3 linked regions of the Homo sapiens genome follow. The protein of the gene in region 2 interacts with the protein of the main gene of each other region in a pairwise test. Each region holds a gene or a part of one and is shown on either strand. Other genes may lie near its edges.

Region 1 (5,071 bases), on a different chromosome or scaffold from region 2:
ATTTTGTTCTCTAAGCAATATTGCACATTTTGCTGGGCGCAGTGGCTCACGCCTGTAACCCCAGCACTTTGGGAGGCCGAGGCAGGCAGATCACCTGAGATTGGGAATTTGAGACCAGCCTGGCCAACATGGTGAAACCCCGTCTCTATTAAAAATACAAAAATTAGTTGGGCATGGTGGCTGGTGCCTGTAATCCCAGCTACTCAGGAGGCTGAGGCAGGAGAATTGGTTGAACCCAGGAGGCGGAGGTTGCAGTGAGCCATGATCACGCCACTGCACTCTAGCATGGGCGACAGAGTGAGACTCTGTCTCAAAAAAAAAAGAAATACCGCACATTTCATCCATGTTTTCATCCTTTTGGAAGTCATTAATGCTTTTGTTTGTTTGGGGGTTGCAGGCGATCATTATTTCGAAGTTCTAGTATTCTGGATCACCGTGAAGGAAGTGGACCTATAGCCTTTGCCCACAAGAGAATGACACCATCTTCCATGCTTACCACAGGGAGGCAAGCTCAATGTACATCTTATTTCATTGAACCTGTACAGTGGATGGAATCTGCTTTGTTGGGAGTGATGGATGGACAGGTGAGAACACATTTTATTTTCTACAATTTTATTTTATGATCTATATTTTATTCCTTCTTGCATTTTAAGCTCTATTTTAACTAGTGTTTTGCTCCATTTCTTAATTTCTTTATTTCTGAAGATTATATCTTTCTAGTGTAGATAAGACTATCAAAAATAAAATATTTTTCAAAAACCAGCTGATCCAACATAGTGAACTACTTCTGGTTGAGAGCCCTGGTCTAAGTTAATAAATTTCCTTTAAGGCTATTTATATTTTTTTCAAATATAAGACTAACATTTATTTTTAAACTAATTAGAATATATTGGCTGGGCACTCTTGCCTCATTAGCTCATGCCTGTAATCTGAGCACTTTGGGAGGCTGAGGCGGGAGGATCACTTGAGCCCAGGGTTTCGAGACCAGCTTGGGCAATATAGTGAGACCTCATCTCTATAAAAGAAAGTAAAAAATTTTTAATAAGAAAAAAAGAAAAGAAAAAATGTATTAAACAAAATTTGAACTTTGTAACAAGATAGGGTAAATCAGGGATTTTAAAATTAGGTTAAAAATTCTGTCTTTCTTTTTCTCTGTTGGCTTCCTGTATGTGTCTTTCTCTTTTTTCTTATCTTTTAGGAGAGTGAAATTTAGTTTGTTTTGCTATGAGATTCTTTTTCATTTCCAGTTAAATAATGCAGCTCATCCTATTGCTCCTGTAACCAGTGGGTAGGGAAATAAAAAAAGAATGCAGTTCATGTGACATTTTACATAAAAAAGTGTTTAACTTGGTTGGAGTGTGCCATGACAGCCACATTTCTCCTTTAGGTTTACTTGATATTAATGTGAAGGTATTCTATAATAATCATCTTAATAATGATTTTGAAAGTTTGTATGGTTTGTATAAAAGTTTGTATAGTGGCTAGTTTATGAAACCCTTTCACTGTATTATACCATTTGAAGAATGCCATAGCTTTATAAAATAGGTAGAGCAGTTATATTCACGTGTTGTGCATGAGGAAACTGTTTATGAGTAGTGTCTTGCCTAGAAAGTGGTACCATATAATCAAACTCACATTTTCGGATAATGCTGCTTTTTTTAAAAAAAACAGCCTTATTATAGTATAATTCACATAACATGCAATTTACCTATTTAAGGTGTATAGTTCAGTGGCTTTTAAAGTGTATTCACAGTGGTTTTTGCAACCATCGTGTATTAGTCTATTTTCACACTGCCATAAAGATAGTACGTGAGACTGGGTAATTTATAAAGGAAGGAGGTTTAATTGACTCATGGTTCTGCATGGTTGGGGAGGCCTCAGGAAACTTATTATCATGGCAGAAGGGAAAGCAGGCCACTTCTTCACAAGGCGGCAGGAGAGAGAAGCATATGTGAAGGAGGAACTGTCAAACACTTATAAAACCATCAGATCTTATGAGTGCTCATTCACTATCACGAGAACAGCATGGGGGTATCTGCCTCCATGATCCAATCACCTCTCTTCTTCCACACTTGGGGATTACAATTTGAGATGAGATTTGGATGGGGACACAGAACCAAACCGTATCACATCACAATTCACATTCCCACTCTTCCCATTCTTTTTTTTTGAGACGGAGTTTCACTCTTGTTGCCCAGGCTGGAGTACAATGGCACAATCTTGGCTCACCACAACCTCTGCCTCCCGGGTTCAAGTGATTCTCCTGCTTCAGCCTCCTGAGTAGCTGGGATTACAGGGATGCGCCACCACGCCTGGCTAATTTTGTATTTTTAGTAGAGACGGGGTTTTTCCATGTTGGTCAGGCTGGTCTCGAACTCCTGACCTCAGGTAATCCACCTGCCTCAGCCTCCCAAAGTGCTGGGATTACAGGCGTGAGCCACCATGCCCAGCTGCAATTCCCATTCTTGATGGTATTATTTGTAGCAGTTAGAGATTTTAATTTTGATGGTATCTAATTTATCAGTTTTTCTTTTTTGTGGCTTGTGATTCTGGCTTTCTAATTTTACTTAACCTGGGAAACACACACACACACTCCAGCCAAGTTAAATACATTTTTATGTAAGATTCTAAATCCTGTGCATACTTATTTGTATACATATTTGATTTTTTTCTGTAGAATATGTACCTAGAAGTGGAATTCCTGGCTCGAAGAATGTATTTTAAATATTAGTGATATTCCAGGCTGATATTCAAAATGCCCATACAAATTTGGTTTTCAGTAACTGAATGCATGTACCCGTTACTCCATATCCTTGACATAATAGATACTATAAAACTGGTAACATTTTGTCAGTCTGTGGGGTAAAAAATGTTAATCCTAAAATGTTTAATTGGAATTTTATGAAAATAGTCATCAACCACCATCTTTATATATTTACCAGCCATTTACTGTTTTCTTTTCTATAAATTGCTTTCATATTCCTAGGCCCATTTGCCTATGGGTTTTGTCTCTTTCTTACTCATTTGTAGGACCTCTATATATTCTAGATGTTAATAGTTCATCTAATATATTGCAACTATTTTCTTCAGTCTATTGCTTATCAGATTTTTTATGTTTTGTCATATTAAAATGAAGGATATTTACATAATAAAATTTGTTAGTTTTTTTATTTATGGCTTCTGAATTTCTTTTTTTTGAGACGGAGTCTTGCTCTGTTGCCCAGGCTGGAGTGCAGTGGTGTGATCTTGGCTCACTGCAACCTCCGCCTTCTGGGTTCAAATATTCTCCTGCTTCAGCCTCCCAGGTAGCTGTGATTACAGGCATCCGCCACCATGCCCAACTAATTTTTGTGTTTTTAGTAGAGACGGGGTTTCACCATGTTGACCAGGCTGGTCTCAAACTCCTGACCTCAGGTGATCTGCCCGCCTTGGCCTCCCAAAGTGCTGGGAATTACAGGTATGAGCCACCACACTCAGCCTGCTTCTGAGTTTTATGTCTAGTTTTCTATAGCTCAAGATTAAAAATAAAAACTCTTACCTTATACCATGCATAAATCAAAGAGCTAAACATAAAAATTAATGCTATAACTAACTACATTAGAAGAAAATGCAGTTGCCTTATTAGGCTTTTTTGATTTACCTATTTTCCTGGAATATCAGTTTGTCTTTAAATAGCTAAGAATCTGACTTATATGCTGTCAATACACACAGTTAGTAATACAGCATGAAAATCCTAACATGCTTTTCTATACTTTAGCCGTGATCATTTTCATTTGAAGTCCTAAATTACAAACTGATTTAAAAGCTATATATATATATATATATATATATATATATATATATGCCACATCCATGAAACCTTCCTTAATCAAATCTCAAGCTTCACTTTTCTCCCTTCAAGCTCCCTGAATACAACATTCTTCCTATGAGATAATTGTAGTCTACTATCTATTACAGTAAATTTCCAATGCATTTTATCTCACTGATTAGATTATAAACTCAACGTGGGGATCGTGTCTTGTTTTTATATCCTATATTGATTGCCAAAGATAATGATTTGTTTTGTATAAAAGTGAATGAATAAAGTAACACATTTGCTTTATTTCAGCTTCTTTGCCCAAAATGCAGTGCCAAGTTGGGTTCCTTCAACTGGTATGGTGAACAGTGCTCTTGTGGTAGGTGGATAACACCTGCTTTTCAAATACATAAGAATAGAGTGGATGAAATGAAAATATTGCCTGTTTTGGGATCACAAACAGGAAAAATATGAACATGATATTTTATAGCTTGGGAAGAAACTTGCAGATGATATGTGCTGCCTTTGCTTCTTATCATTCATGGCAGATTGTTTGTGCTTTCAACATTTCATTTGAAATGGGAGAAGATAAAATCACTTGATGTAACCTGGAAACTATGCTTTACATGGCAATCAAAGCCTTTTGATCATGTACATTTTATTTGATATTAAAATCTTTTATAACCAGATACTGTCTGTGTTTCATATATTTTTAAAAGTTTTGATTGTTGGAATGTTATATGATCTTAAGGTCTGTATAGACAAAATTATGTACAAAAATTTGAAACTATTATATTTAAATGGGTATTCTTTTATTTCCAGACACATAAAGCAGATTTGTTTGGACATATTTTGGAATTATTTCACTTTCTTTCTTTTAAGGGACATTAGTAAACCCATACATGTCTGGATTTTTTTCTTGGAAATGGAAAGGCCATTAGTAAAACGCTGATTAAAAGGCAATTTTCCTATTACTGTTCAGTAATCCCAATTATCTATATTTTTAGAAAAGTGTTTGAGATCCCTTTTGAAGTGATCTACATAAAGAAATACATAAATGTTAGATGTGTTTCTAATGATGAAGAAAACAAATGTAGAGTTACTATATATCAAGTCATTTTGTAGCCCAATATGTGAGTATTGGAAAAGGTAATACGTCCAGATTAGTTTTTTAACCTGATGTATAGAAACTAGAATTATTTTACTCATTATTAATAATTACAATTGGACCTAATTAGATATTTGAACATTTACAAGAATCAGAATTAACTAATA
Region 2 (7,887 bases):
CCGAGATGGGCGGATCACCTGAGGCTGGGAGTTCGAGACCAGCATGACCAACATGGAGAAACCCCGTCTCTTACTAAAAATACAAAACTAGCCGGGCATGGTAGCAGGTGCCTGTAATCCCAGCTACTGAGGAGGCTGAGGCAGGCGAATCACTTGAACCCAGGAGGCAGAGGTTGCAAGAGCTGAGATCGTGCCATTGCATTCCAGCCTGGCAACGGAGCGAGACTCCATCTCAAAAAAAAAAGAAAAAAAAAAAGTTGAGAGGTGGGTGTCACAGAGGAGGACCACTGCCCCTCACAGTGTACAATATCTGAGTCCATTTGAGAGCTCACAGCTCAGAAACACAAGGCTCTCAGTCCATGCAGAGTTGATCTTGGTGGGGGGTGGGAGGGAGGGGACACTCATTCACATTCAACAGAGTCACAGCCAATGTGTAAACAACCAGAAGGCCAGTTTACCAATCTACCTTTCCAGCAGCTATTCCTGTCATCAGGGCATGCACTGAGGTGTGCAATTCATGCACTCATTCAGCAAGGTTTTGACAAGCACCAAGTGTCCATTAGTGCACGGACTGTGAGCACCTGACTGGGGAAAATAATGCAGCCAAATGAGGTGGAGATCCAGAAACGGGAAGTGGAATTGTGCAATGAGCTTGGCGTCACACAAGCTGGAGTTCAAACGCTGTCCATCATTTATTAGGGAGGCGACTTTGGGGAAAATTGCTTAACCTTCCTGAGTCTCTTTCCTCACCTGTAAAATGGGTATAACAACATCTCCTTACATGATTATTAAAGAATGGGATTACATATGTAAAATGCCTAGTTTTGTTTGTTTTTGTATTTATCTGGAGAGGCCATGCCACATAATTTTTAAGGGAACAGGCTTTGGGATCAGACAGAGCTGTCTTTAAATCCTAGCTCTGCCACTTACTAGGTACATGATTTGGGTAAGTTGCTTAATTTTTTTCCACTAAGCCTTGGTTCGCTCATTTGTAAAATGGAAATACGAATTCCTCATAGGGCCTGGGAAATAAGATAATGTATTCCAAGAACTTAGAAAACTCCTAGGATATGATAAGCATTTAACAAATGGTATGATTAAGAGTAATTTTTAGGTGCCAATATCCAGAATAAACAAGGAACTCAAACAACTCAGTGACAAAAAATAAATAAATCTGATTTTTAAATAGACAAACGATCTCAATAGATATTTCTCCAAGAAAGACATACAAGTGGCCAACACATGTATGAAAAAATGCTCAATGTCACTAATCAACAGGGAAACGCAAATCAAAACCACAAAGACAAAAAATAGCAAATGCTGGCAAGGGTGCAGAGAAAAGGGAACTCTGATGCACTGTGGGTGGGAAGGTAAATTAGTACAGCCATTAGGGAAAACAGCATGGAGGTTTCTCAAAAAACTAAAAATAGATCTTCCATATGATCCAGCAATCCCACTACTAGGTATTTATCCAAAGGAAATCAAATCAATATTATCAAAGAGATATCTGCACCCCCATGTTTATTGCAGCGCCAGTCACAATAGCAAAAGATATGGAATCAACTTAAGCGTCCACCAACAAATGAATGGACAGGCTGGTTGCAGTGGCTCATGCCTGTAATCCCAGCACTTCAGGATGCCGAGGTGGGAGGACTGCTTGAGGCCAGGAGTTCGAGACCAGCCTAGGCAACATAGTGAGCCCCCCCCCCACCCCTCCCGCGCCATCTTATTATTTAAAAAAAAAAAAAAAGGATAAAGAAAATGTGTTATAGGCTGGGCGTGGTGGCTCACGCCTGTACTCCCAGGACTTTGGGAGGCCAAGGCAGGTGGATCACACAGGAGTTCAAGACAGACCAGCCTGTCCAATACAGTGAAACCCTGTCTCTACTAAAAAAAAAAAAAAAAAATTAGCCGGGCTTGATGGCACGCACCTGTTGTCCCAGCCACTTGGGAGGCTGAGGCAGGAGAATCGCCTGAACCTGGGAGCCGGAGGTTGCAGTGAACTGAGATCAGACCACTTGCACTCCAGCCTGGGTGATACAGTGAGACTCCGTCTCAAAAAAAAAAAGTTTTACATATACTGGAACACTATTCAGTCATAAAAAAATAATGAAATCCTTTTATCTGAAGCAACATGGCTGAGACTGGAGGACAGTATCATATTAAGTGAAATAAGTCAGGCACAGAAAGATAAATACCACATATTCTCATTCATATGTGGGAGCTAAAAAAAAATTCGAGTTCATGGAAGTAGAGACTTGAATTGTGGTTTATTAGAAGCTGGGAAGGCTAGTGGGAGGAGAGGAGAGGGAGAGGTTGATACAAAATTGCAGCTCAATAAGTTCTAGTGCTCTGTAGTATTTCAAGGTAAATATACTTAACAACAATCTATTGTATATTTTCAAAAAGCTAGAAGAGAGAATTCTGAATGTTCCCAACACAAAGAAATGATAAACATCTGAGGTGATGGATATGCTGATTACTGTGCTTTGATCATTACACGTTGTATACATGTACTGAAATATCACTTTGTATCCCACAAATGTGTTATTATGTATTAACTAAAAATAAAAGGGAGAAAAAGAACACAAAAGTATTTTTTTAAGTTGTCCATGGTTGCATACAAATGAGTGGTACACATATTAAAAAGCAGTTAAAATTATTACAAACTTCAACGAAATTAAAAATTGTGCCACTAAACATACAAAAAAGCTAATTACTTCGTGTTTCATTAAAACTTTTCTGAAAAGGCAGGCCTCTCACCTCAGACTAGTTTCATGCCTATACTTTCCAACAGAGTTTCTAAAATAACATCATTTTTGTGCTGCCAAGCAAAAAGTCAGATCTGTTTCAATACTGCTAAGTCATGCTCCACAGTGAAACAGCAGCAGCATGTCTGGGATCCCCTTTTCTAGTTTGTCTGATGGGAACCCTGGTACTCACAAGGCACTGTGCACTTGGCTTAACAACTATACACCAAGGTACACACTGCGGGATTATAAAAGTCCCTGCCCTAAAGGACACAAATCACCTCTCAATTCTGGATTGTGCCTTTATTTCTTCCTACCAACACTGCCAATTTTTAAGTTGTTTATAAAGCTTTTAGTTATGGAAGCACGATCTTGGATTTTGATATAAAAATCAACATAGCTGCCAATTCTAACCTCAGTGCAAATGCAACTGGTCCAAAACAAAGGGCAGCCCCTTATCTACCTCATCCTGTCCTCAGCAACATTTCTCTTTTCCAGATCGGGAAACCTGCACGGCCGCTCAGGACTTCTCGATGACTGCACCTTAGAGACCAGAGTGCAGGTTAGCGGGGCTCTCGCTCCATCAGTCAAGTGAGGTCTTCAAACTTCAGGGTGAACTATGGATGTGTTTTTAAGACTCAAGTTTTCACAAAAAAAATCCAAGTTTCAGAAAGAATGGGAGAGTTTCAACAGAACTAAAATATGAGAGCCTCTCTCTAAATAATAAAAATTTTCTTTTTTTTTTTTTTTGGAGACAGTCTCGCTCTGTTGTCCAGGCTGGAGTGCAGTGGTGTGATCTCGGCTCACTGTAACCTGTGCCTCCCGGGTTCAAGGATTCTCCTGCCTCAGCCTCCCGAGTAGCTGGGATTACAAGCGAGCCACCACGCCCAGCTAATTTTTTGTATTTTTAGTAGAGACAGGGTTCCACCATATTGGCCAGGCTGGTCTCAAATTCCCGACCTCAGGTGATCCGCCCACCTCAGCCTCCCAAAGTGCTGGGATTACAGACGTGAGCCACCGCGACCGGCCTAAATAATAGTAATTTTCAACGGAATACATTGGAATCTCATTATAAATGCCTGCTCTGGGCTACGATTTGCTTATCAAAGAATTCACAAGTCATAAACTAGAGGGGGTGGACTCGACGTGATGCCCACTAGGAGAAAGGTGACAAGAGAAGCACGAAGGATAGCGCTTTTCAACCCTGGGAGAGCAGGGAGGCCTTCACCAGAAGGTGGGAACCCACCACGAAGCGCCTTCAGGAGGCCCCAGGATTCCAAACCAATTAAGGGCCTCCTCTTCCGAAAACGGGAGGCGACGCGCTGAGCTAAGCGCGCAGGCTGGGTTGCGGGCCGACACCGAGGCGGCGCGGCCTCGCGACCGCCCTGGGCGGTCACTGGCGAGTCACGGACTCGTTCCGCCAGCGGCCAATCCACCCCGAGTCCGAAACAGAAGACGTCCCTGGGATGAAAGACCCAGGCCTGGGGCTTAAGGTGGAAAAACAACTCATTCCTCGAGGCCCGGAGTCGGGCGTCCCGGGAGAACGGGAAAGGGAGATGAGCGCCCGCTGCGGGGAGAACGCGGTCGGGTTCCTCTCCCCGAAGGTGGCAGCCGCAAAAACACGGCCTCGAAAGCAGTTTCGAGGACGATGGCTCCTGCGTCCCGGGAGTCGCCATGACGCCGCGGCCTGTCCCAGACCCGGCGAGGGAGGGGACCAACCACCATCTCCCCCTCAAGGCCCAAACCGACAAAGAACGGCCCCCGGTACCCCGGCCCCGCCACCAGGGCCACTCCGGGTCTCGCGAGACCCAAGGGCTGCGCCGCGAAGACCTCTGGGAAAGGCGGGGGGAGGGGAGAGGAAGGAAGCGAGACCGGGGCTGGAGGCGGGCCGAGGCCGCGAGTTGAGCCTCAGGAAGCAGAAGGGGCGCGGAAAGATGCGATTGACGTCGCAAGCGAACCAATGACGAGCGAGCTGTGGCAGGCCTCCAGCCAATGGGCAGTGAGGCCTGACGCGGGGGGCGGACGCTGGGGCCGAGGGTAGCTTGAGCGCGGCGGCGGCGTTGTTCAGTCAGAGCGAGAACATTCCAGAGGTGAGTCCGGTGAAGGGGCGGCCCCCTGCCCGGTGCTTCCCGCCCCCTCGACCCCTCGGGCCGCTGGCTGGCGGGGAAGGTGCACTCCCCGACCGCCCACGGCTCACGGCGCCGTCTCTCCGCGCCAGGTCGCCCAGCTCCGGCGCTGACGGGTGTGGACCGCGGACGTCGCTGGGACAGCCCCTCCCCGCTGCTCGGCGGCGGCACCTGGCCCGGCCGCTCCTCGCTGCGCTTCGCCTCCGCCTCCTCGGACTCGGACTCGGGTTTATATCGCGCCTCACTTCATCCCAGTCCCGGGCGAGCAGCGTTGGGTTTATGTCTTTATTTGACGAAAACGGTGAGTCGCGGGCGCGGCGGGCCAGGAGATGGCGGCCGCACAAGATGGCGGCGGCCGCCGCGTGACCCCGCCGCGGCGTGTGGCGCAGTTTGGGCGGACGGCGGGCGGGCGCGGGCCCGGGCGCCGGCCGCCCCCTCCCCGCGCGCTCCCCGGCCCGGCCTCGCCCCCTCCCCGGCATGGCGGGAGCGCGTCGCGCGTGCCCGCCGCTCGGGCTGACTCAGGCTTCAGCTGCTGCATTTGTGAGTCATCGCGCGCTCTGGGGCGGGGGCGGCCCGATCCCGGCACCCCTCGGCCGTGTGTCGCTTCCCGGCTGTGCACCCTCCGGGGCCGCCGGCTCTCGGGGGACGCGCTGGGGATGGGGCCAGACGCCCCGGTCGCGCGCCCCCCTCCTTCGCGGAGCTGCCCGGTTCGCCAGCCCCCGCGGAAACGCCTCGGAGCGCGGTAGCCATGGGGACCAGGGCGAAGGTTAACCGAGTATTTGAATAGCGAGGAAAAGGGAGGCCGGGGCGAGCCTGGCGTTCGCTCGCGCTCTCTTGCTTAATGGCAAATTGTGGGCGAGCGCTGCGTTTAAGGAAGTGCTGCTTTGAAGTAAGCCATGGTTGCCGAAGCAACGATTAGTTGTAGAGAACAGTTCCCTAGGTTGCCCTTAAAAATGAAGACGAACGGGGGTGTGCCTGAGAAGTTTGCTTATCCAGGCGGGGTGGGCGGCGGAGAGGGCTCGGGTTCGTTCTTCAGCACTTCCAGGATGGCCGCAGAGGCAAACCTGCTGATTGCCCTCGGTCTGATGGAATCTCACGGCGGCTGAGGCAGCACAGCTTGTGTTTTCTTGTCAGGCATTTCCCTACCAGTCACAGCTTAGTCGAAATGGAGGCCTTTTTATGTTCCCGCAGATTGTACTGTGTTACATGAGAATGGCTGTTTGCATGTGATCTCAGATGCTTTTTAAGGTGGAGTTAAGCAGAAGCATAACTAGGATGTAAAAAGGAGGCGTTTCCATCCAGCGATGATGTTAAACCTGGGGGGATTTTTGTGTGTTCTTTCCCTTTTTCTTTCAGAGCTGTTGCGCAGCCATTGGTACCTGTATTGGGGAAACATAGCATACAAGCAAGAAGCTTACAGCCTCAGTGGCGAAAATTTTTTCATGTCAGAGACCGAGAACTCTTGCAGTCGTTTATGTCATCCCTTCTTCTCCAGACAGAAGATACCAAAAAGTTGCAATCAAAGATCTCTTCATCTTATTGATAAAGCCACTAATAAGCCAAAATGTCTGTCAATGTCAACCGCAGCGTGTCAGACCAGTTCTATCGCTACAAGATGCCCCGTCTGATTGCCAAGGTAATAAACTGCTCTTCAATTTAGTTGATAGCTCTTTTTGTAGAATTTTGAAGTTTGCATTTGTCAGGGGAAACTGCACAACTAAAATTCTTATTTCCTTTAGGTTGAGGGCAAAGGCAATGGAATCAAGACAGTTATAGTCAACATGGTTGACGTTGCAAAGGCGCTTAATCGGCCTCCAACGTGTAAGTAAAGCTTGGAAAAGTCCACAGGGCATATTATGGATAGAGTCTTCAAAGTCTTTGAGCTGCAAAACTTGTTCTAATTGTATGCTAGCTAATTACCTTACAAGTTAAGTGAGGAACCGTGGTTTATTGGTTGCCATGAGTTTACAAAACTACCAGGGGAACGCATTTAAAGAGTGGATGGCTGGGCGCGTTGGCTCACACCTGTAACCCCCAGCACTTTGGAAGGCTGAGGCAAGCGGATCGCGAGGTCAGGAGTTCTAGACCAGCCTAGCCAACATAGTGAAATCCTGAGTCTACTACTAATACAAAAATTAGCCAGGCGTGGTGGCATGCGCTTGTAGTCCCAGCTACTTGGGAGGCTGAAGGGGGAGAATCGCTTGAACCCCGGAAACGGAGGTTGCAGTGAGCTGAGACCACGCCGTTGCACTCCAGCCTGGGTGACAGAGTGAGACTCTTGTCTCAAAAAAAAAAAAAAAGTGGTGTTCGTACAAATGTGAGTGAGTAGCCAGAGATCTAGTTAACTGTAACGATCCAAACTCCTTTTTCATTCAAATAGATCCCACCAAATATTTTGGTTGTGAGCTGGGAGCACAGACCCAGTTTGATGTTAAGAATGACCGTTACATTGTCAATGGATCTCATGAGGCGAATAAGCTGCAAGACATGTTGGATGGATTCATTAAAAAATTTGTTCTCTGTCCTGAATGTGAGAATCCTGAAACAGATTTGGTAAGTGCTTTTGTGGTTGTCGAAAGAAAAAGCCATATACCTGCTTCTGTGATACCGCTAAGTCACCTTCCTGAGAAGGCAGAGCAAATGTAATTTTAAATCAAACACAAAACTCCAGTTTTCGAGATATTTCCATTCTTTTTTTTAAAGTAGGTCACTGTGTGAAAAAAGTTTTCTTTGCATGTGAAGCTGTCTGTGGTTTAGATGTCCTCTGATTAGATATTTTCATGTTATATTATGGATAACATTTGTTATTTTTTTGGCAGCATGTCAATCCAAAGAAGCAAACAATAGGTAATTCTTGTAAAGCCTGTGGCTATCGAGGCATGCTTGACACACATCATAAACTCTGCACATTCATTCTCAAAAACCCACCTGGTGAGTCTTCCATGATGAACTCCTAAGATCCTAAGATAAGTTACTAACTGTTGGGAACAAAATAGAAGGTTTTTTTGTAA
Region 3 (7,118 bases), on a different chromosome or scaffold from region 2:
TATTTTGTAAAATATCTTCAAGCAAATGAGAGACTTCATCTGTTAGTCTTATGCCAAATTAAATGAGTTTGGTAGCAATTTCAAATACTATGTTGACATGAATGTACAAATATACATTCTACGTGTTCCTTCTATTGTACGAATCAAAGACTGCACGCAAAAGAAATGGGAAATACAGAATACAGAAGACATGCACCTTCTATCTTACATAGTACTGGATATCAAGTGAAAAGAGCAGACACTGATCTAAGTACATTACATGTATAAACATCTAAATTATCAATCCTCCCAACAATTCTGCATGACAGGTACTGTTTTCATCATCCCCATCTTAGAGGTGAAGAACCTGAAGCTGAGACAAGCAGGAGAATGTGCCAGTGGTCACCTGCAGGTAGAGGGCCAAGTAAGGGTGGGGGCAAAGGCCCTTTGACCCCAGGATCCATGCTCTCCCCTCTCCAGTACACTGCCTCACAAGTACCTAGCAACTTGCAGGGCTAGGAGGGGGGAATAAGAGAGGACAAAGTCCAATACATTCTCCAAATTGCTCAGTTCATTCTATACCTGAGAGTCTTGTGTCTTTTCACATTTTGCTCTTTTCTGAATAGGAAGAAAAAAAGCAAAGATAAAAAGGATGGTAGTTTAGGGTAAACCAAAAACACAAAGCAGTGTGCAAAAGTTCATGGGAGTCCAAAGAGTATAAATAAAACTTACCCTTACGAAGTAGAATAAAGATAAGCATTTCATACCAATACAAATCATTTTCATCTTTATGACAGTCAGGTAACATCAAAAAAACCTTGCTTTCATTCTGATACTTTAGCTGTCAATCCAGTCAATACCGGTTGTTGTTAAGTCTGTATACAAGTAAAGTATAAATCTAGCTATTTTACTCAAAACATGCTTTTACCTATTTGATTACTCAGAGTTACTCTGAAATCAATAATGACAGCAGTTTATACCTATGGAAGATGTTACTGAACATCATAATCTAATATTTACATTAGATGAGATTAAGTTAAATTACAAGTCACAAAGAGTTTGTAAGCAAACATTTATAGCCATGATTCCACAGATGTGGTGAGTAAACCAACAGCCATTCCTAAATAAAATACAAGAATTTCCATCATGCATAGTTTACAGGCTTGGTAAGAAGCGGTCTCTTTAGGGGCCAGATGCTTAAGAAATATTCAACAAACAATGAAATCTTGGCTTTTTTTTTTTTTTACACAAATGTTTGGTTATTTAGCCACACTAGTGATAAAACATATTCATATTCTAACTGCAAGTGGAATAAACATTGCAACAAAAATGCAACCCAATCAAAATCATTAGTAATAACTATTACTCCCTCTTAGCAGTAAGAACCATTATTCTTGGATTTCAAACATTTTATTTTCTGTGCATAGCTTATAGCACTGTATTATAGGAATCAGAGTGTATAAGCAAAAAAATGAAAAATAAAACTTCTTGGAGACCATTTCCATTATTTATGATTAAATCAATGAAACTATACAATTTCCACATTAAATACAAATTAGTAGAAGAATTCCTCCAAGTAGTATTGCATATAAGCTACAACTTTACCCCAACTATTTTAATCACTATGATTCGAGATTTCCTAGGATTTAACAGCCCAAGATTGGGCTGTTACTACCTCAGCAAGAACAATCACCAGTAAATACATGAACTGGGGTTATAGCTGAATTTTTAGAAACTCTCCAGACAAACCACGTGTTAGAGGAGGTAAGTAGAAAAACTAATGTTTGAGCTGTGCTATTCCTACCAGGAACTATATCAAATATGCAAAGTTCAAACATTCTTAGTAAAATAATATGAAAGGATCTATATATACTGTAAATTTAGCAAAAACACTTTTATGTACAGAAGCCTAAATATCTTAGGAGGTTTAGAATACCAATGAAGAGAATTGTTAATTCTTCAAGGCTGGTTTCTTATGAGGATTAAAAACCAGCCCTTAGTCTCAGATGCATTCCACCTAGATGTGTTCACGAACTCCATAGAATAAGAAATATAAACCATGAATACGTACTCTTAATTTCCATTCTTCAACTTAATGTTCTATAGTACTTCAGATTTTTAAATCCAGAGTTTGGTGTACACTTAGGAAATTATAGTAAGAGTAGATTAGAGAAGATTTGCTTGTTTTCCTTTTGAAGCCATGTGAAGGTTTATTACCCTGTGTATTTTCATCACTGAAAAGTTCCCCGGTGACTAATAAAATAAAAGTGTCACAAGCTACATGATGGATCTCTTCTTTTAATGTTGCATAGAGTTTCAGTTTGGCTAGTGAGGGCTAACTAGCTCAGCCCTAGTTTCATTTTATTAGAGTTGACCACTAAAAACTAAATAAGGAAGTTACCAGTAAAGCTAATTCCCAATACAAGCAAAAAACAAAAACAAAAAACAAAAACAAAACCATTCACATAATAAAATATATCCTTAACACAAAATAAGGGTATAACATATTCTGCAGCATGACATTTTATTTTATTTCTCAGCTGTAGCTTTTTCATTCAGAAACTGGAGACCATCTTTTCACTGAGTTGTTATTCCTTCCTCTTCCCTTAGCTTAGGGATATGTTGAAAAAGGCTTTTCAACAAGTATTTTATTTTTTACAAGTTGCTATGAAATTAAAATTTATATATATATCTTAAGTGTTTATAAAGCACTCAAAATTGTAGCTTACATGTATATGACTTCTGAAAATAAAAATCACACTTCTAACATAATCTTTCTGCTCTGCAAAAATATTCTACATACATGCATATGATCAAAACAATCTTTTCATGTTTGGGGTATTTCTTACACATAGTAAAAGAAAAGTCAACAATTGTATCAGTACTTCCCCTGTTAAGATAACTGAGTGCCACCTAGTGTTCAATTTCTGCAACTACTAAGCTTACAAATTCAATACTGCTATTAAAACCCAGGTTCTGAAAACGGCATTTTGGAAATCTTTTTTTTTTTTTTTATGTTTACGGTGGCAAAATACGACTATGAAAAGAACATGATATCAAAATCAGTATAAAAATAGCCACAGGCTACTTAAATATGACAAACAGACTTATTTTTTTTCTTCAACTGCAGACTTCTGCCTCCCTCAAATTGTATCAAAATCTCAAGGGAATATCTAGGTAACTGGAATATACACAATGACTCTATACAATCAAGAGGCCAGGGCTTAATCAGATTCCGTGAGGACAAGGCAAATGATTTCTTCAAAACACCCATTTTCTTACTGGAAGTGGTAGGAAAAGCAGCAATGCATGGTTTTTTTTTTTTTTTGTAATTAGTAGACATGGTCTTCTACCCATAAGCTCCATTACATTAAAAGAACAAAGTGGGCTTAACATCTCACTTAAGATAATTCAGCATTATTATCAGTTTTAAAAAAACCAAAAATATCTTAGAAACAAATCAGTCTGCTTTAACAAATTGCATTCATGCTAATGAAATTTTAATCTTCTTTGTCATGATCAAAATCCAAATTGTAGGACAATCTTCAGAAAAGATGGAATGTAAAATGTTGAGTTCAATTTAGATCTGGAAGGGAAAAGAACATCAGATGAAAGGAAAAAGAATTCTTATATTCCAACAGTCTACTCCATATATAAGGGAGACTTTCACCTCCTTAGGCTATGTGAGAAACAAATCCAGTTTGAAGAAGAAATTCCTATAATTCTGGCCTGCTATAAGTAAATCGTGATGATCTCCTTTGTAATGTTACATGTTATGCAAAATATTCTTAATAAAATTTACTGTCTCCTTCCTTTAATGCTTGTAATTTGAGATTTTTGTATCTCATGGATGGGAGCAGACACAGGAAGCATGATATGATTGATCCCGTTCAGTGTGATACTGACCTAATTCTCCTGAGTCAATCTGGTTATAGTTAAAACATCTATAAACCACCTGGAGAAATGTCTCAAAGAGTAGGGTTCTCAGGTGACAGAGCCAACTTTTACAAAATGTTCAAGAGAACTCCTTTAATAATCACTCTTTACCATCCCTTTTCCAGCCAGCCAGCTGGGTCCAGTTCTGAGGAGGCGTTGGCCCAGATCCAGAAATTTTTACTGAGAAAATCTTGACCACGCCTAGATTCTCAACCCATTATCTTGGTGCATGCGGCTTCATATCCATGCATGTTCTCTGGTTAGGTTCCTTAATTTTTTTTTTTTTTTAAAGAGGCCTTCTACCCCTGCTCAGATGTCAAAATGTTTGGGTTGGCGCTTAATCCACATGTCAGCTGCAAGCTCTTATTTACCAAAGAATAGAATTGTTAATTCTATTGTCAAAATATTAGTAACAGTTTAGTCGTAAGACTCCTCTTGGCTCAGGGTCTCCAAAATTAAGAAAATAACAGAACAACATGTTTATTTCTCACTTCCTATTTTTGTGTACATGTTAAAATGTCTATAATATTAGTAATTTAACTCACAGTGTGAGTATTCTTGGTCAGGAACAACTGCTCTAGGTATTCCGAAATTCCATCTTTGCATCAAATTTAACGTTATTATGTTATTTATGTAGAGACAAAGTCTGGCTATGTTACCCAGGCTGGTCTTGAACTCCTGGGCTCAGGTGATCCTCCCCTATCAGTCTCCTGAGTAGCTGGGACTATGGGTGCATACCACCACATCTGACTTATTATTGTTTTTGGGTTGAAATACACAGGTGGTTTCTGAACTACATTTTAGTTAAAAGAGGTTTGAAAAGAAGAGCCCAAAACAGATTTAAGAGTAACACCCTAATCACTAAATAAATTTATACTGCCAAAAGATTAAGTTTGAATTTCATTCAATTACAGTAACAGCAGAAGTGCAGTAAAGCATTTACACTTATGGGCATTACTACTTTATTATTAGGAAAGACAATCCATTTTCCTCAAAATAAACATACCAACTGCAAACCAAGAGTTTGCCAACAGTACACACCCAACAGCTAAAAATACCATAATTGGCAATAGGCTTCCATTTTGACAAGGCTTTCAGTGTATGTTGTAATTCCAATGCTTCATATCAAGCTGGTTCAAACAAGATTCTTTCAACACACTAATATTTCAATTAAAAAGGCATGTTCCTTTGATAAGATCTATTTTTCAACTGTCCACTAAATTTCTTAATGGCTATCTCTTTAGAGACTCTTAATTAAACAAGTTATGATTAGAGTGGCTGGCGTTAATATTGCCAATGCAAACACTGACCTTTTCAGGAAGAGAAATTGAAGAGGGTTATAAGAATTCTCAAAATAGGGCCGGGCATGGTGGCTCACGCCTGCAACCCCAGCACTTTGGGAGGCCGAGGAGGGCAGATCACCGGAGGTCAGGAGTTCGAGACCAGCCTGGCCAACGTGGTGAAACCTCGTCTCTACTAAAAATACAAAAAATTAGCCAGGCGTGGTGGCACGCGCCTGTAGTCCCAGCTATTCAGGAGGCTGAGGCAGGAGAATCGCTTGAACCCAGGAGGCAGAGATTGCAGTGAGCTGAGATTGTACCACTGCACTCCAGCCTGGGTGACAGAACAAAACTCCATCACAAAAAAAAAAAAAAAAAAAAAAAAAAAAAGAATTCTCAAAATATAAACAGTTTGACCAGGTGTCTTCTAAATAATATTATTTAATTCAGACAATTCTCAAAATACAACCTTATTTAAGTGTCCCATGTTCTTAAAATTAATGGATGTTAGGGGAAAGTTGGTTTCTCCATGGATAATAACAAAAATTGGAAAACACAAGGTACATCTACTTACGTCATCAATATCTTCATCATCATCTCCAATGTCATCAAACTGAATTTCATCATCATCTCCAGGACCAAATGTATCAGTTTCATTGATTTTAGCTAAGGACACAGTAAGAAATACTCATAAGTCAGCACTGTAATTTACTCAAAGTTTCATCATAAGAGCATTCCTTTTATATAAGACAATAACTATAAAGAATATTTTATGAAAAAAAATTCCTGCAGTGTCACTGCTAAGTCAAGATGGGAGTATCTGTGTTACCATTTTCTTTTGTTTGCAAAGGTATTTTTAGTAAGGAAGGCCCTAATTACACTAATTCTGAAGCTATTATAACTTTCAGGTATACTTCTCAACATACAAGGAAATATGGTAACAACGTATTTCCTTAAGAATAGCTGGTTCACTAATCATCAGATAGACTCATCAATCAGAAAGATCTGGTCAAATCATGATTACCCCTAAGCAATGAAAATGAACCAGGAAGCGCTAGTCCTATTCCTATATACATTAACATTTCTTAGATCAGAAATGCTAAGTAATTTCAGCAGGACTTTCATGCTTAAGTAAAATATAACAAAATTATGTTTTTTCTTAAGATACAACAGAGCCAAAAATAATAACTGCCAAGTGAAAATGCAGGCCTACAGAACAGTATGTCAAGTACATTTCCCCTTTGATGAGGTTATAAGGGACTTATTTTTAGGTTTTCTGCGTTAAGAATTCATTACTTTTGTATTTGGAAGGGTGAAAACCAAGAAATGTTGCTTTTAAAAAATCCTATGGGATACTATTATACAACGATAAAATGGAAATATAACTTTTTAATAAAAATCAGTAATGAGGCCGGGCATGGTGGTTCACGCCTGAAATCCGAGCACTTTGGTAGGCAGAGGTGGGTGGATCATCTGAGGTCAGGAGTTTGAGACTAGCCTGACCAACATGGTGAAACCCCGTCTCTACTAAAACTACAAAATTAGCCGGGCATGGTGGTGCATGCCTGTAATCTCAGCTGCTTTGGAGGCTGAGAATCGCTTGAACCTGGGAGGCAGAGGTTGCAGTGAGCCAAGACTGCACCACTGCACTCCAGCCTGGGCAAAAGAGTGAGACTCCATTTCAAAACAAACAAACAAAATCAGTAACTGTACCTAATTACTTGCCCTTGCTTCATGGTTTTTTTTTTTTTTTTTTTTTAATTTTTTTTGAGACAAGGTCTCACTTTGTCACTCAGGCTCGAGTATAGTGGCATGATCATAGGTCACTGCATCCTTGAACTCTTGGACTCAAGCAATCCTCCCGTCTTGGCCTCCCAAGTAGCTGAGACTACAGGCATGTGCCACCATGCCCGGCTGACTTGC

Evidence for each region.
Region 1: the proteins of EIF5 (region 2) and DUSP12 interact in binary tests that used the Homo sapiens proteins (3 or more experiments, as listed by UniProt).
Region 3: the proteins of EIF5 (region 2) and EIF1AX interact in a two-hybrid assay, tested with the Homo sapiens proteins (one study listed by IntAct).

The regions. Positions count from the first base shown.
Region 1 is NC_000001.11:161,752,678-161,757,748, forward strand, and holds the end of DUSP12 (dual specificity protein phosphatase 12), read left to right. Parts: intron 1-397; coding exon 398-584; intron 585-4,108; coding exon 4,109-4,270; 3' UTR 4,271-4,561; downstream 4,562-5,071. UniProt on the Homo sapiens protein: Dual specificity phosphatase; can dephosphorylate both phosphotyrosine and phosphoserine or phosphothreonine residues. Can dephosphorylate glucokinase (in vitro).
Region 2 is NC_000014.9:103,329,421-103,337,307, forward strand, and holds the start of EIF5 (eukaryotic translation initiation factor 5), read left to right. Parts: upstream 1-4,816; 5' UTR 4,817-4,840; exon of another isoform or gene 4,841-4,968; 5' UTR 4,969-5,177; exon of another isoform or gene 5,178-5,240; intron 5,241-5,467; exon of another isoform or gene 5,468-5,765; intron 5,766-6,232; 5' UTR 6,233-6,440; coding exon 6,441-6,512; intron 6,513-6,615; coding exon 6,616-6,697; intron 6,698-7,256; coding exon 7,257-7,429; intron 7,430-7,695; coding exon 7,696-7,807; intron 7,808-7,887.
Region 3 is NC_000023.11:20,124,747-20,131,864, forward strand, and holds part of EIF1AX (eukaryotic translation initiation factor 1A, X-chromosomal), read right to left. Parts: intron 5,862-7,118; coding exon 5,770-5,861; intron 3,566-5,769; coding exon 3,560-3,565; 3' UTR 1-3,559. UniProt on the Homo sapiens protein: Component of the 43S pre-initiation complex (43S PIC), which binds to the mRNA cap-proximal region, scans mRNA 5'-untranslated region, and locates the initiation codon. This protein enhances formation of the cap-proximal complex.